2 linked regions of the Homo sapiens genome follow. The protein of the gene in region 1 purifies or fractionates together with the protein of each later gene. This does not show direct contact. Each region holds a gene or a part of one and is shown on either strand. Other genes may lie near its edges. The genes, in order: INTS4 and BMP2K.

Region 1 (7,694 bases):
CCAGCACTTTGGGAGGCTGAGGCAGGTGGATAACTTGAGGTCAAGAGTTCGAGACCAGCCTGGCCAACATGGCGAAACCTCCTCTCTACTAAAAATATAAAAATTAGCCAGGCATGGTGACACATGTCTGCAATTCCAGCTACTCAGGAGGCTGAGGCAGGAGAATCGCTTGAACCTGGAATGTGGAGGTTGCAGTGATCCAAGATAGTGCCACTACACTCCAGCCTGGGCAACAGAGCGAGACTCCATCTCAAAAAATAATAATAATAATAATAATAATAATAATAATAATAATAATAATAATAAACAAATAAATACATAAGTAAGTAAGGCTGCAGGCTCAATAAACTGAGAACAGTCAATGAAGACTGACACACACAAAAATGATAATTGAATAGTTCAAATCCTAGAATGATTAAATACAGTTTGGAATAAACAAATCACTCTGGGAGTACAAACCAACTCTTTCAGTTGCATTGCAAATTATGCTTTTTTTTGAGACAGGGTCTCACTTCTGTCGCCCAGGCTGGAGTGCAGTGGCGTGAGCACTGCTCACCACAGTGTCAACTTCCTGGGCTCAGGTGATCCTCCCAGTTCACCCTCCTGAGTAGCCGGGACTACAAAAGCATGCCACCACACCCAGCTAATTTTTTATATTTTTAGTAGAGATGGTTCACCATGTTGCCCAGGCTGATCTCAAACTCCTGAGATCAAGCAATCCACCCGCCTCAGCCTCCCAAAGTGCTAGGATTACAGGGCTGAGTCACTGCAACCAGGTGCAAATTTTCAATGTATTGAATAAAAGTGTGTAACCCACCAAAGGTTCAGCCAGGCGTGTAATCCCAGCACACTGAGATACTGAGGCGGGCAGATTACCTGAAGCCAGGGGTTCAAGACCAGCCTACCCAACATGGCAAAACCTCATCTCTACTAAAAGTACAAAAAATGAGCTGGGTGTGGTGGTGCGCGACTGTAATTCCAGCTACTTGGGAGGCTCAGGCATGAGAATTGCTTCAACCCAGGAGTTGGAGGTTGTAGTAAGCCGAGATCACATCACTGCACTGCAGCCTGGGCCACAGAGCAAGACCCTGCCTTAAAAAAAAAAGTACGTAACCCACCAAAGGTTCAAAGATTTATGAAATTATCAAAAACTAGCTTCCACCGAATATTTCATATCCTTAAGTTTATTATCTTCTGTAACTGAACTTCTTTTTTTTTTTTTTTTTTTTTGAGAGAAAGTGTCTTGCTCTGTGACCCAGGCTGGAGTGCAGTGGTGTGATCTCAGCTCACCACAATCTCCACTTCCCAGGTTCAAGCGATTCTCCTGCCTCAGCCTCCCTAGTAGCTGGGATTACAGGCGTGTGCCACCATGTCCGGCTAATTTTTGTATTTTTAGTAGAGACGAGGTTTCACCATGTTGACCAAGCTGGTCTTGAACTCCTGACCTGAGGTGATCCGCCCACCTCGGCCTCCGAAAGTGCTGGGATTACAGGCACCACCGTGTCCAGACTGAACTTCTATAAATACAGTAAATCTCAGAATAAATCAATATAAAACTTACTTATCAATCCAGTCCTAAAAGAAGACACAATTTCCAGTTAGCCCTTTTCTTTGTATGTGTCTAAGTCCTAAAACACTACAAATGGAGCCTACTCCTACAGGTTTATTAATTCATTCTGGTTTTCAAATTCTGGCAGTTTAATGAACAGGAAAAAACACCCCTTTTTCCTATACAAGGAAAAATAAAATATTCTATAAATATTTATAAATAAAAGATAAATAAACATTTATAAATATAATATTCTATCTTACAAAATATAATAAATAATATTGCCTACCTCCTCAAAGAATCACTGTGGTTAATTTAATTGCTGTGAAAATATTTTTAACCAGGAAAACTACATAAGAGATCATTATTCTCAAACTCATCTGGTATCTTTATCTGGCATTTGGCACAAGCCAAACTAAAATGGGTCCCAAACAATTTTAAAGATTTTTTTGTAAAGTACTGAAAACCATTTAAGAAAGATATTCCAATTTCTTCACTTATGGATGAGAAGGTTAGGATAAAAGAAGTGAAGTATCTTTCCAAAGTGTACAGAAAGTTCCTATCAGAGATGAAAAATGAGGACCAGGCAATCTGATTTTCAGGGCCTGTGCTTTTCCCTTATTCCCCATTGCCTTCCAAAAATGTAACCAACATTTCTTTTCTAGAAGTGGGCTTTTTGCATGGTGAGAGGAGAGGAAAACGGCTTCACAATCAACAAAAGCCAGCTTACACCCACACTGACCTTTCAGGATAGAGCTGACTGACGACCCAGATAAGCTGGACTGCAGCACTGCGCACTTGTTCATAGTCATCAGAGAGTAATTTACAGGCCTGCAAAGAAGAATTCCAAAAGTCTATTAGTTCTGTGTCCTCTCAGGCAATGTTTAAACTATTTTCAAAGTGAAGATAGGGTGGTTGGATAAGGATGCCCAGTAAAACACTTGTGTGTGGTTTTAACTTCTGGAATCTTTGCTTAAAAATGAATCTTGACCTCTGTCAGCTGCTCTGGCTGTATTCTGACTATGCACCCTACCCCATGTCTGAAAGGAGAATCACAGACTGACAGCATAAAAACATCTAGAACAGATCAAACCCAGCAAAGCATGCTGGGAGCAAACAGTACTGTTCTCACAGGTTCAAACACCAATTATGGCTTTTTCCTCCCCCTGTAAAAATCAAAGCACACACTTCTGTTTACCTTGGTCTGAAATCACTGGCCTCTGTTTCAATCCACTCACTCTTTCTGGGTAGCCCCATACTCCCTAAATACTGATGGCTTTGAATACCTACCCTTAGCTCTGATTTCTCCTGATCTCCAGGCCTTTATAACTACTTATGGCTGGAATTCTCTTCATGGATGTCCCATCAAACTTTTATACTCAACACACGCAAACCTGAACTCATTAAGGAAGCAAATTCTACCTTATATCTTAAATTCTACACTATCAGTCCATCCTCACTCCCTTGATGCTGTCATTACTGCTTGCCTAGATTACTAACAGAGTCTTACGCCACCAAACATCTGAATCAGCCAACTAACTTCCCTTCCTCTGAGTCCTTACGATCCAAGTTTCCTTTGAATTATTTGGCTTCCCACATAGTTTTCTTATAGAAAAAGAAGGCGATGGTCACACCACCACAAGCATTCTGGACCCATTCTACTTCATTCAATAGAGGAATAAACTTGGTTTACACATCTGTGATGGGGCTTGGCTAATTATCTTCTTCCCATGAGAGATAAAACCACTCTTGGCAGGCTAACAAAACCTAATCTCTGAACGTGGATTTAGATTCCTTTTACCAGATTCAGTCAATTATCCTCCAAGAGAAATACAGCCTCATAAGGCCTTTTGGTTGGCCATCAATCAGCTTTTCCACAACTTCATTATACCTTTCTTTACCACTACTACTACATGCATGTGACTTTTTTTTTATATGATCCTACGGTCTTGGTCACCCTTCTCCAGACACACTCTAGTTTGTGAAGTGTGGTGCCCAGAAATGAGTTCATGTACGGCCCAACCAAACAGTGATCAGAAAGACTAACACGTTCCTTATTCTAAATGCTACACTTTTCTTCAGGTACTCTCATTCTCATACTGAACTTTGTAAATCCTCCTAAAAGTCCTTTTCACATGTACTAGCGCTATTTAATTACATAACCTCCATTCTCTTCCTGAAAAGTATGTTTTGAATATGACTTCACATCCATCCCAATCAACGCTGCCACTATTAACTAGCGAAGTCCTTACGTTTTCAAATTCTGAGAACCTGTGTGCCGCCCTCCCAGCTTCATGATACCTCCAACCCCTTCCAGACAGTAATCATATAAGGTACCTGATTATAAATTGTTTGGTGTAATTTCAGTCCTCTTTCATGGAGCTGCAACTAGATAATAAATATATAGTTTAAGTGCTTGGGAGGAAAAGAGCAATATTTCCAATGTCTCCCCACAATCTCACATATTTTCCCCTATTGTATCAGGCTAACATGGTTCCTTTTAGCCAAAATTAGTGCTATATAAATAAGAAACCTTGTCGTCTTTCAATAGGAGCATTCAAGCATTTCACAAATCTAACCCATGGACTGTCCCAAGAAGGTATTAGAAAAATATGAAATAATGATATGAAGCCTAAAGAAAAAATGATTAACACCACCTCCCCCTATTATAATATCATACCAAGTCATATGCCTCCAAGTCGAAGGAATTATAACAGGTTCCTATTGTGCTTTCCATGTTTCATAAATACACATGAAAGCTACCAGAGAAAGCCAAAAAAGCACACTTGTATACAGGAATGTGTGTCACTGAGTTCTGCGAGGCCACCACCAATACCCTCCTGAAAGTATATGCTGAAGAATTTACAATGTATCCAAGGCAGCACTAGCTATAAACTTAAAAAACAAAAATGAACACTAGCCCCAACTAGTTTCCATAATCACATTTACCATGGCTTTTATAGCTGCTGTTCTGACACGTGGGTCTTGGTCACTGAAGTAATCCCCTATAATCTTCTGGACATCTCTGGCAGCTAGGCCTTCTGCATCTTTTGTGACACTTTTCTCCAAAGAGCCAAGATTGCCAAGTAACTGCAGGCACTTATTTCTTACACCATGAGACGTATCTGTCAGATGCTATTAAAAAAAAAAAAAAAAAGAAAAAAAGAAAAAGAAAAAAAGGACATGATTAAGATATCTTAACAAACACAGACAAGACCAGAAACAAAAGCATTGCAGCAACCTTAGGGGTGATTTCAAGACCTATATTCTTAGGACAGTCTGTCTAGCATCATGTTACTTGAGTACGGGTCTTCTCAAAAAAAATGAGTCCTTAGAAAATAAAAGTCCTAGTTTTTCATCTTTGTATTCCCAATAGCTTTGGGAATACAAAGGCACTTTGCCTTGTACAGAGTAGGTACTTTAAAATTCGTCCCTGATTGCGTTTTATTTGCTTTCAAATTTTAAAACCAGACAAAAATGTATAAATTTTTAAAACTTTTAATATCCATAGAAATATGCAAAATCTTAAGTGTACAGCTCAATAAATTTTCACAAATACACATATATAACAAGCACCCAGATTAAATAGTATATAACCAACACTCCAGAAATATCCCTCATTCCTCCTCCCAGCAACAACCTCACCACATCACCACCAAAAATAGCTACTATCCTGACTTCTAACACACAGGTTCATTTGTTTATTTTTGTACTTTATGAAATCAAATAGCATCTGGCTTCTGTGGCTTATTATGTTTGTAAGATTTATGCAAGGTATGGCAGATAGCAATGGTTCATTTATTCTTGTTACTTATATAGTATTCATTTGTAAATACATGAAAATCTATTTAGCCTTTCCGTTGATGAATATTTAAGTTATTTCCAGTCTTTGGCTATTTCGAATAATGCTACTGTGATTATTCTTGTATGTGGCTTTTGGTGTACATGTTCACATTTTTGTTGGATATATATGTAGAAGTAGAATTGATAGGTAACAAGACATGCTTCAGCTTAAGAAGATACTGCCAGTTGGGCACAGTAGCTCATGCCTATAATCCCAGCACTTTGGGAGGCCAAGGCAGGAGGATCACTTGAGCCCAGGAGTTCAAGACTGTCCTGGGCAAATGGGACTATAGGCATGTGGTGGCACACACCTATAGTCCCAGCTACCCAGAAGGCTGAGGTAGGAGGATCCTTTGAGCCTCGGAGGTGGAGGCTGCAGTGAGCCATGATCATGCCACTGCACTCCAACCTGGATGACAGAGTGAGATACTGCCTCCAAAAAAGAAGATATTGCCAAATAGTTTTCCATAATGGCTGTACTAATTTACACTTCCACCAGTGCTGCATAAGTGTTCTAGATGTGCCACATCCTTGTTGACATTTAGTACTATCAATATTTTTTATTTTAGCACCTCTCACCACGAATTTTAATAAATTATCAGTTTTCCTCCTGCATTACCCTAGTCCAATGCTACTAAAACAAGCTATTTGCATAACATAGCAACATAAATTAAAAATACTTTGAAGAAATGAGGTAATAAAAATGGTACAAAACTCTGGATTTCAAACTTCTTTTGACTAGCACCCAAAGTAAGAAACACATAATATTGCAAGACAGTACATAAAAACAGACATACAGCAAGTTTAACAAAACAATATTTACCTTATAGCTTGTGATTTACTCTGGTACTTGTATTTTATTTTTTTTCAAAAAAAAAAATTACGTCTCATGAAATTGGTCACATTACCCACTAATGGATAATGATTCTCAAAGTGAGTCACTAGTGCGGAGAAAAGTGAATGGGACTTGGCCAGCTTGGACAACACAGCGAGGCCCCATTTCTTTAAAAAAAAAATTTATAGCCAGGTGTGGTGGCACACACCTGTAATCCCAGCTACTCGGGAGGCTGAGGCCAGAGAATTGCTTGAACCCAGGAAGCGGAGGTTTCAGTGAGCCAAGATCACGCCACTGCACTCCAGCCTGAGCAACAGAGCAAGACTGTCTCAAACCGCGCCCCCTAAAATTCAAAAACAAAACAAATGAACTATTTATATTTAGTATAAAAACATCATTTCTCATGACTAAACTGTTGATTGCACCTCTGTTACAAACACTTTGATTTTCAAGCAATAAACTAAATACTTCTAGCTTCTGTCAACCAGGCAACAATAATGCACAATCAATGTATTACTGCACACTGAATCTTAGCCCAAAAGAGAGTCTCATGCTCTCAGGGAAACAATTACAATTTTATGATGTCCTTCCCTTACAAGTCACTTCTTGCATCAAGGTCATCATCATTAAGAACTGCTTTTCTGGCCGGGCGCAGAACGAGACTCCGTCTCAAAAAAAAAAAAAAAAAAAAAACAAAAAAAACTGCTTTTCTTTATACTGTTGGATAAAAACTTATTAATTAAAAAAAATTGCTAAGTGTCTGCAGATGCTATTTGGGTGTTACACATTTTGTCAGGCCATTGAAGTGCCATAATTTTTATATTAATGGAGCAAGTAAGGAAACCACATCCCCAATAATAAGACCAATTTGTGTCAAAAATAAAAATTAATTTACAATTTTGCTATATATTAAAAAAATAAATGGTTCTGTGTATCAACAAAATCTGAGAATGAAGTTGAATAAGATAAAAATAACATACTGATCCATTCAGCATCGATATGGATTTTTTTTTTCTTTTGAGATAAGGGTCTCGCTCTGTCACCCAGGCTGGAGTGCAGTGTTGCAATCAGCATTCACTGCAACCTTGGCCTGACAAGCTCAAGAGATACTCCCACCTCAGTCTCCTGAGTAGCTGGGGACCACAGGTGTGTGCCATCACACCTGGCTAATTTTTAAAATTTTTGTAGAGATGGGATGTTGCCACATTGCCCAGACTGGTCTCAAACTCTTGGGCTCAGGTGATCCTTGATATGAATAGTTTTTAAGGACAGATAACAATTTGGTGTATTCTGTATGCAGATTCTAATGTATACCCTCTTTTAACAAGAACTTTGGTCTCCCAGAAAAATCTTTACAAATAGGAAAGAAAGCAGAAGACCCTCAATTTCAGTTGTGCAGATGCTACACAAGAAAACTGCATTAATTTCTTGTCAAGTCTTTGAACTACATCTATTCATCTCTCAAAT
Region 2 (7,694 bases), on another chromosome or scaffold:
AGTAAACTTGCTTAGTGTCAGTAATTAACATGCAACTTCCTAAGATAATAAAAAAGCTAAAATTTTTAGTTCGTAGTTCCAAAGCACAAAAACAGAAATAAAGAATATCTTGACTAGAAACCATCAAAATATCATTCTACCATATTTAGTTAAAGAAAAAGAAGAAATACATTACTTAGAGCCAAAAATAAAAACAGTGGGTGAATATATGAAATTTCACAGTATACTAAAATAATGTAAATGAGTTATGATTCTGTGCACCATCTACACAGTTTTTAATGCTGTAAATACATGTTGTTAGTGCTTATTCTAAATATTATACCCCCATCTCCCACCTACTTGAAGAACAGCTATTTTTATGTTAATAATACAGATCTCAGTAAATATGGGGATTATTAGGATTTAGGGTATATTGAATTATAAAGCAACATATTTAGGCTTATACTTTTGGGAAATTAACTTTAGCAGTGAAATAATCCTGATTAAATTTCATAGTAAATCAAATGTGTATTATTTAATCTAACAACTAGTGGGAATCTGGCCCCAGACACAAATAGTGGGAAGATCTGAAATTTTTTTTTTTAAATTATAGGAATATGTTTAGGCAAAGAAATGGAGTATGAAGGTTTATGGCATTCTTAGCTAGAGGTCACATTCTAAAGTGCTGTGCATTGTATAGTTATAACCAACTTTATAACTTAAAATACTTATTCTGACAGTCTTTTATGTCTATGGAATAGGACTGAAAGCCTTAGAATATACTGAAATACTTTTTATTTTTGTGTAATTCACCTTTCTTTCCCAGCTCTTCTGTAGTTTCATGATGAATAGATGATTAAGTAGATCACTGCTACTGCAGAAACTTACCTTGGATTGTGGTAACTTGCAGCCTGGAACCTAACTTTTCCTCAGCAGGAGGTACTGGAGAGATAAAAGGATTAATAGTTTGTCTTAGTATGCTTTCAGAGAGCCTCATTACTGCTCTTTACTTTTTATAAGTTTATAACAGCAGTAAAAGTGTAGAGTGAAATATTTAAACAATGTCAGTGTGGGTTGCAAGAATATGGGAGAAAACAGGAATTTGGATAAATATTTTTGATTGTTATTTTAGTTTTATGTAGGGGGGCAAAATAAGTAAAACCAGTCTATCTACACCAACAGAAAATTTCCCCAGTTGCCCGTACTATTTGCAGATGTAACCTGAAAGCACAAAGGTGGTATAGATGATTGTGTCTTTTCTTGCTCTTTTTGAAAGTGTGTTTCCATTTCTTATACTGTGTTCTCAAATATAGCTGTCTAAAAATCAAAAATAGAATTTCCAGGATCTAAAATGTACCCTTATGCTGTGTGGATATACATTTGTTGGTCTACTTACTTCTGGTCAGTTCTGAAGTGGATCTCAGCTCCTCTTGAATTAGCCATAGACTTGCTTCTCCCTACACTTCTCCCTCATTTATATTCACCTGCAACCACTGGGCCCAGAAAAGTTACTAGAAGCTTATTGGGTATGATGGATAAAATAATTGAATTTGGCCATTCCCAGGACATGATGATGGTAGAGTGCTTATTATGTGTTCAGGCACCGTTCTAAGTCCTTTCTTCACAATAGCTCTATGATATAAAATGTGTTATCCCATTTTGTGTATAAAGAAAGTGGAATAGTGGTGACCTTGTCAGGATTATTATTGGGTTAGCTTTAGTAGCTGTGTTAATTACCCATGAGGAGGGAATCATAGTATATAAATAAAGTGAAATTGATACTAAAAAAGGAGGGTTTCCTTTTTACTCCTTGAAGGAAAAAGTGCATGAATCATGGTTGTATCTAAAATGCCGAAAAACTAGAAACAACCTAAATATTCTATTGCTAAATAGTGAACAGTTATATATGGAATATTTTATCATATTTCTATCAGAATAAATAATAGACTGTTGATACCTGAAAAGATGCATTAAAAATAGTAAGTTAAAAACCCACAGATTTATACCCACACTGACAATTATAAATGTGTATTTCTATTAATACAACTTTGATAAATGGACAAAGGGCCAACAGAATGAGAAGTATAAAGTGACAGATGTCTTCTGAAAAGTAATGGTAGCCAGTTGAATAATGAAAACAGTAAATTTTAAGAAGACTAGGGAGTACAATGTAATAATTTTAAAAAGAAGGCGAATTTAAATTCACTTCCAAGTGACACTCTCCAAGATGAATTATCTGTCCTACGTTAAATGTTCCAGAAGACCTTCAGGAACACAACTAGAAATGGAAAATTTCAAGATAAGTTGTATAGCAGCATTTCCCCAAAGTACTTTTGCATAGTTGGTTTTAAAGGTTAACAGGCATTACATGTAAATAAAAGGGTAGTGAAGACAATTTGGGAAATCCTAGGGTTCATAAAATTAGATTCTTTTGTGTAGGACTCATTAGCACCTTTAATGAGCATACTCCAGGTGAGTAGGAGTGGAGGCAGAATGCAGAGTGCACCATTTCATAGACTTGTTTGCTTGAGACCACAGAACTGTTTGTCTTGGTTCTTGTTAGGGAAATAGCCTCTGCAGAATACACTTTGGGCAACATTGGAATGTTACTTGGAGGTGTCCGTGAGCAGGCGTGAGGTGTGAATGTTGTGGCTGTGGGTGGGTATGCAGCTCGAGGAGTAATACGTTAAACGTTTCACAGTCAGGGATGATGGGAAATCTTCTGGAACCGTACATATTTTATTTTCATTTTTCCCTTCTTCCCATATTTTGCTTTTGAATAAAAATTCATAAAAATAAATTCACTAAAATTAACTTTGTTTTTAATATCATAAATACGCTGTGTAGGGAAGAAGTCAAACTTGAGAATCTGCATTTGATTTGCTTTTAATCTGGAAGGATAACAAATACAGCATGTAGCTCTTGGCTGGTTTTAAGGAACTGACAGAAGATTATATTTGCAATTAAGTATAACCTGGTGGTATTCTTCACATACTTGTCTCCCACACATTCTTTAGCACCACTACTCATGTCAACATTGCCAACAAACTATACAAGATGACCAGATCCAGTGGCCATTTTATGTCCTTAGTTTACTGGACCTCTTTGCACCATCCAGCTCAGTTGTCTGTTACCTCCCTCAAACATTCTTCTCTCTCCATTTCTGTGACATTGCACTCAGCTGTTTTCTTCCTCCTCTCTGGCTGTTACTTTGTAGTTTGTTTTGTATGTTCATCTTCCTCTGCTGACTTCTGAATGTTTTATACTGAGGGCTCAGTTTTGGATCTTCTTTTCTTCTATGTTTTCTTCCGAGGTATGCCCTTTAGTCTTGTGGCTCTCTCTGCATACCAACTGCATGGTGATAACTCCCAAATCTATTTTCTTCAGCCAAAAACTAACCATTGGTTTCAAATCACAGATACCTAACTGCTGTACACTTAAATGTTGTCTCACACATATGTCAAGCTTAATGTCTCCAAACAAAATTTTTAGTACTCCTCTTCACTTTCCAACTTACTCATTTTTTAAAAAATTATGCTCATTAAAATTTGTGTGTGGGTACATAGTAGGTATATACATTTATGGGGTACATGAGATATGTTGATACAGGTATACAGTGCATAATAATCACATCAGGGTAAATGGGTTTCTATCACGCCACTCATTCTTTTCTTTCTGTTAATGGTGCTGCCATCCACCAAGAGTTTTCAATCTCTATTTTTTCTACTTTGACCCACCCTGCCACCACTGTCATGTCATCTAGGCCACCAAAATCTCTAACTTGCATTACTATAATTTCCTTTTGCCTGAACTCCCCTTCTTACCTTCCCTTAGTCTTTTTTTTTTTTTTTTTTTTTTTTGAGACAGTTCGCTCTTTGGCCCAGACTGGAGTGCAGTGGTGCGATCTTGGCTCACTGCAACCTCTGTCTTCCAGTTTCAAGCGATTCTCCTGGCTCAGCTGGCACCTGCCAACATGCCTGGCTAATTTTTCTATTTTTAGTAGAGATGGGGTTTCACCATGTTGGCCAGGCTGGTCTCAAACTCCTGACCTCGTGATCCACCCGCCTTGGCCTCCCAAAGTGCTGGGATTACAGGGGTGAGCCACCGCACCCAGCCCCCTTAGTGTTTTTCTATAGAGCAGTCATTTTTTTTTATGTAAACCTAATCATGACACCTATTTTAATAATAGCTTTCCATTATACATGGAATTTTGAATTAGATGTATAATGAAATATACGCTGCTTATCATGGCCTTAGAGGACCTTCACAGTCTGGCCTTTTCCAGTCTTCCTTACCTCATGTTGTACCTGATCCTCCCTTGCTCACTATATTCCAGCCACAATAGCCTATTTTCAGCCCCTTAAATATGTCTTTATATATGCCATTGCTTTTATTGGAAGCTGCTTCCAGCTTATCCTTTGCATGGCTGGGCTCCTTCTCATTGTTCAATCCTAACTGTCGTCTCCTTAGGGAGGTCTTCACCACTGTCCAAAGTAGGTTTATGCGCCCATTTCCCTGCTGTCCTTTATTTCAGAGCACTAGTCACAATTTATGTTTACTTACAACCTCTGACTGTAAACCCCTGAAAGCAGAAACCATGTTTCTTTTACTCACCAATGTATAATCAGTGTATAGCAAAGTGCCCTATATTTCTTTCGTTGAATGAACTCAGAAAATGAAGTGACTGAATGGATTCTGAGCTAAAAACATCTCCAGATGGTTTAGATTTGTTTTTAAAGGAATCTCGCTTTTTTAATGTAATGTATAGATATTATAATTAAAGGAAGTCATATCATCTAGAGAAGGCAGATGTTTTTGGTACAGTCTCCATTTAGTATCTGGTCCTTAGCTTTGGTGAGGCCATTCATGCTAAGTCAATTCAAAAGATAGTGGTTTATAAAAAATACAATGCTGATTTAAAAAAATAGTGAAACAAATACGTAACTGAGCAGGCAGGCTGTTCATGCTTGTTGATCTCTATGGGAAAACTTTACAAGAGTTGAAATATAAGCAGGAGGTATTTGGTGAATGTGAAATCTGAGCTTTCAGAATTAGCAGAATAATGTTATTTTGGTGGTGGGGTGAAGAAAATTTGCTAGTCTACTACATTCTGTGTGCTATAAATAAAATTTGGCTGTCAGTGAGAGTACGATGAGGCAGGGTGTAGGGTCCAGATATGAATAAGTCTGTCTACATTAAGACTTAACTATCTACCTGAGGTCAAATGCATTCTCTAAGTCTAATGACGAAGAATTGACAACATTATTTTTTCCTCTAAGGGAACTCGTATGAGGGATTTGTAATGCCATGTGTAATACATATTAACATTTAGTGCAAGAGGATTCTGAAATGCATTGGAATGCTGTAATAATATTTATTTGAACTTGCAGGTTCTCCTGAAAAGAAAGCTGAACATTCATCTATAAATCAAGAAAATGGCACTGCAAACCCTATCAAGAACGGTAAAACAAGTCCAGCATCTAAAGATCAGCGGACTGGAAAGAAAACCTCAGTACAGGGTCAAGTGCAAAAGGGGAATGATGAATCTGAAAGTGATTTTGAATCAGATCCCCCTTCTCCTAAGAGCAGTGAAGAGGAAGAGCAAGATGATGAAGAAGTTCTTCAGGGGGAACAAGGAGATTTTAATGATGATGATACTGAACCAGAAAATCTGGGTCATAGGCCTCTCCTCATGGATTCTGAAGATGAGGAAGAAGAGGAGAAACATAGCTCTGATTCTGATTATGAGCAGGCTAAAGCAAAGTACAGTGACATGAGCTCTGTCTACAGAGACAGATCTGGCAGTGGACCAACCCAAGATCTTAATACAATACTCCTCACCTCAGCCCAATTATCCTCTGATGTTGCAGTGGAGACTCCCAAACAGGAGTTTGATGTATTTGGCGCTGTCCCCTTCTTTGCAGTGCGTGCTCAACAGCCCCAGCAAGAAAAGAATGAAAAGAACCTCCCTCAACACAGGTTTCCTGCTGCAGGACTGGAGCAGGAGGAATTTGATGTATTCACAAAGGCGCCTTTTAGCAAGAAGGTGAATGTACAAGAATGCCATGCAGTGGGGCCTGAGGCACATACTATCCCTGGTTATCCCAAAAGTGTAGATGTATTTGGCTCCACTCCATTTCAGCCCTTCCTCACATCAACAAGTAAAAGTGAAAGCAATGAGGACCTTTTTGGGCTTGTGCCCTTTGATGAAATAACGGGGAGCCAGCAGCAAAAAGTCAAACAGCGCAGCTTACAGAAACTGTCCTCTCGCCAAAGGCGCACAAAGCAGGATATGTCCAAAAGTAATGGGAAGCGGCATCATGGCACGCCAACTAGCACAAAGAAGACTTTGAAGCCTACCTATCGCACTCCAGAGAGGGCTCGCAGGCACAAAAAAGTGGGCCGCCGAGACTCTCAAAGTAGCAATGAATTTTTAACCATCTCAGACTCCAAGGAGAACATTAGTGTTGCACTGACTGATGGGAAAGATAGGGGGAATGTCTTACAACCTGAGGAGAGCCTGTTGGACCCCTTCGGTGCCAAGCCCTTCCATTCTCCAGACCTGTCATGGCACCCTCCACATCAGGGCCTGAGCGACATCCGTGCTGATCACAATACTGTCCTGCCAGGGCGGCCAAGACAAAATTCACTACATGGGTCATTCCATAGTGCAGATGTATTGAAAATGGATGATTTTGGTGCCGTGCCCTTTACAGAACTTGTGGTGCAAAGCATCACTCCACATCAGTCCCAACAGTCCCAACCAGTCGAATTAGACCCATTTGGTGCTGCTCCATTTCCTTCTAAACAGTAGATACTTCTGATGGATTCTCGGCATTAACTCCTGTTTCAAAAAAGTGTGAACAGTTTTATGAATTTGAAAGAAAATTTGGTAGCTCTTTATAGCATTCATTCTTAAAGATCAGTCAGAATAGGTGATTTCTAAATAAACCAAATAGAAGAATGAAGTATCTCTACAGGGTAGTAACTTGATTCCTCTTCAGGAGAAAAGGGAGCTAAATTGCAAGCTCTAACTAAGGGTTTCTGCTACTGACATCACAACACAGAAATGCAAGTGTGGTACTTCCAGTGAAAGCACATGGCACCTTTCTAGGTGTGTAGCCACTGAGAAGGGACAGTGAAACTGTTATTTTTGATATCAGAATGTCATTTTTATGTGCATATCCCTAAAATTAGGGTTATTTCTACATACACTAGTTACACTTGTGAATTTTTTTTAAGGTCTCTTTTAATTTCCAGACAGTTAAAAACAATCTAGTTATCTTAAAGCATTAGAAAGTTATTATCTGGAGAGTGCAGAGATTTCAGTCCATACACCTTTCTCCACAAAGCAGAGCCAGAAGTAACTGACTATTGTGCCTAAAACTCTGTTTCATTTTTAAAAACAAGTGCCATTAAAATGGAATATCTAATGATAAGCATATGAAATAATGTGTAATTAGCTCAATTTAACTATTCCACAACTTACATATTCCAAAACAATGTTATACATGATAAATATATATAATTTTTGTCAGTTAAAACAAATTAAAAAAATGGACTATCGTCGCACAGAAGCCTAGAACAAAAATATGAAGAGAAATATCTGACATTTGTAAAGAAATTATAAGAAGAAAAAAAGATACAGAACAGAAAACATTCACTACTTTAGAAACACTTTATGCATGGCTTCTTGCCCCAAACTTTTATTGTGA

The links.
Region 2: the proteins of INTS4 (region 1) and BMP2K purify together in Homo sapiens (affinity purification with mass spectrometry; 2 studies listed by BioGRID and IntAct, with this or other methods). This does not show direct contact.

Annotation. Positions count from the first base shown.
Region 1 is NC_000011.10:77,956,455-77,964,148, forward strand, and holds part of INTS4 (integrator complex subunit 4), read right to left. Parts: intron 4,685-7,694; coding exon 4,499-4,684; intron 3,938-4,498; coding exon 3,887-3,937; intron 2,381-3,886; coding exon 2,292-2,380; intron 1-2,291. UniProt on the Homo sapiens protein: Component of the integrator complex, a multiprotein complex that terminates RNA polymerase II (Pol II) transcription in the promoter-proximal region of genes.
Region 2 is NC_000004.12:78,905,241-78,912,934, forward strand, and holds part of BMP2K (BMP-2-inducible protein kinase), read left to right. Parts: intron 1-867; exon of another isoform or gene 868-921; intron 922-5,369; coding exon 5,370-6,793; 3' UTR 6,794-7,694. UniProt on the Homo sapiens protein: May be involved in osteoblast differentiation.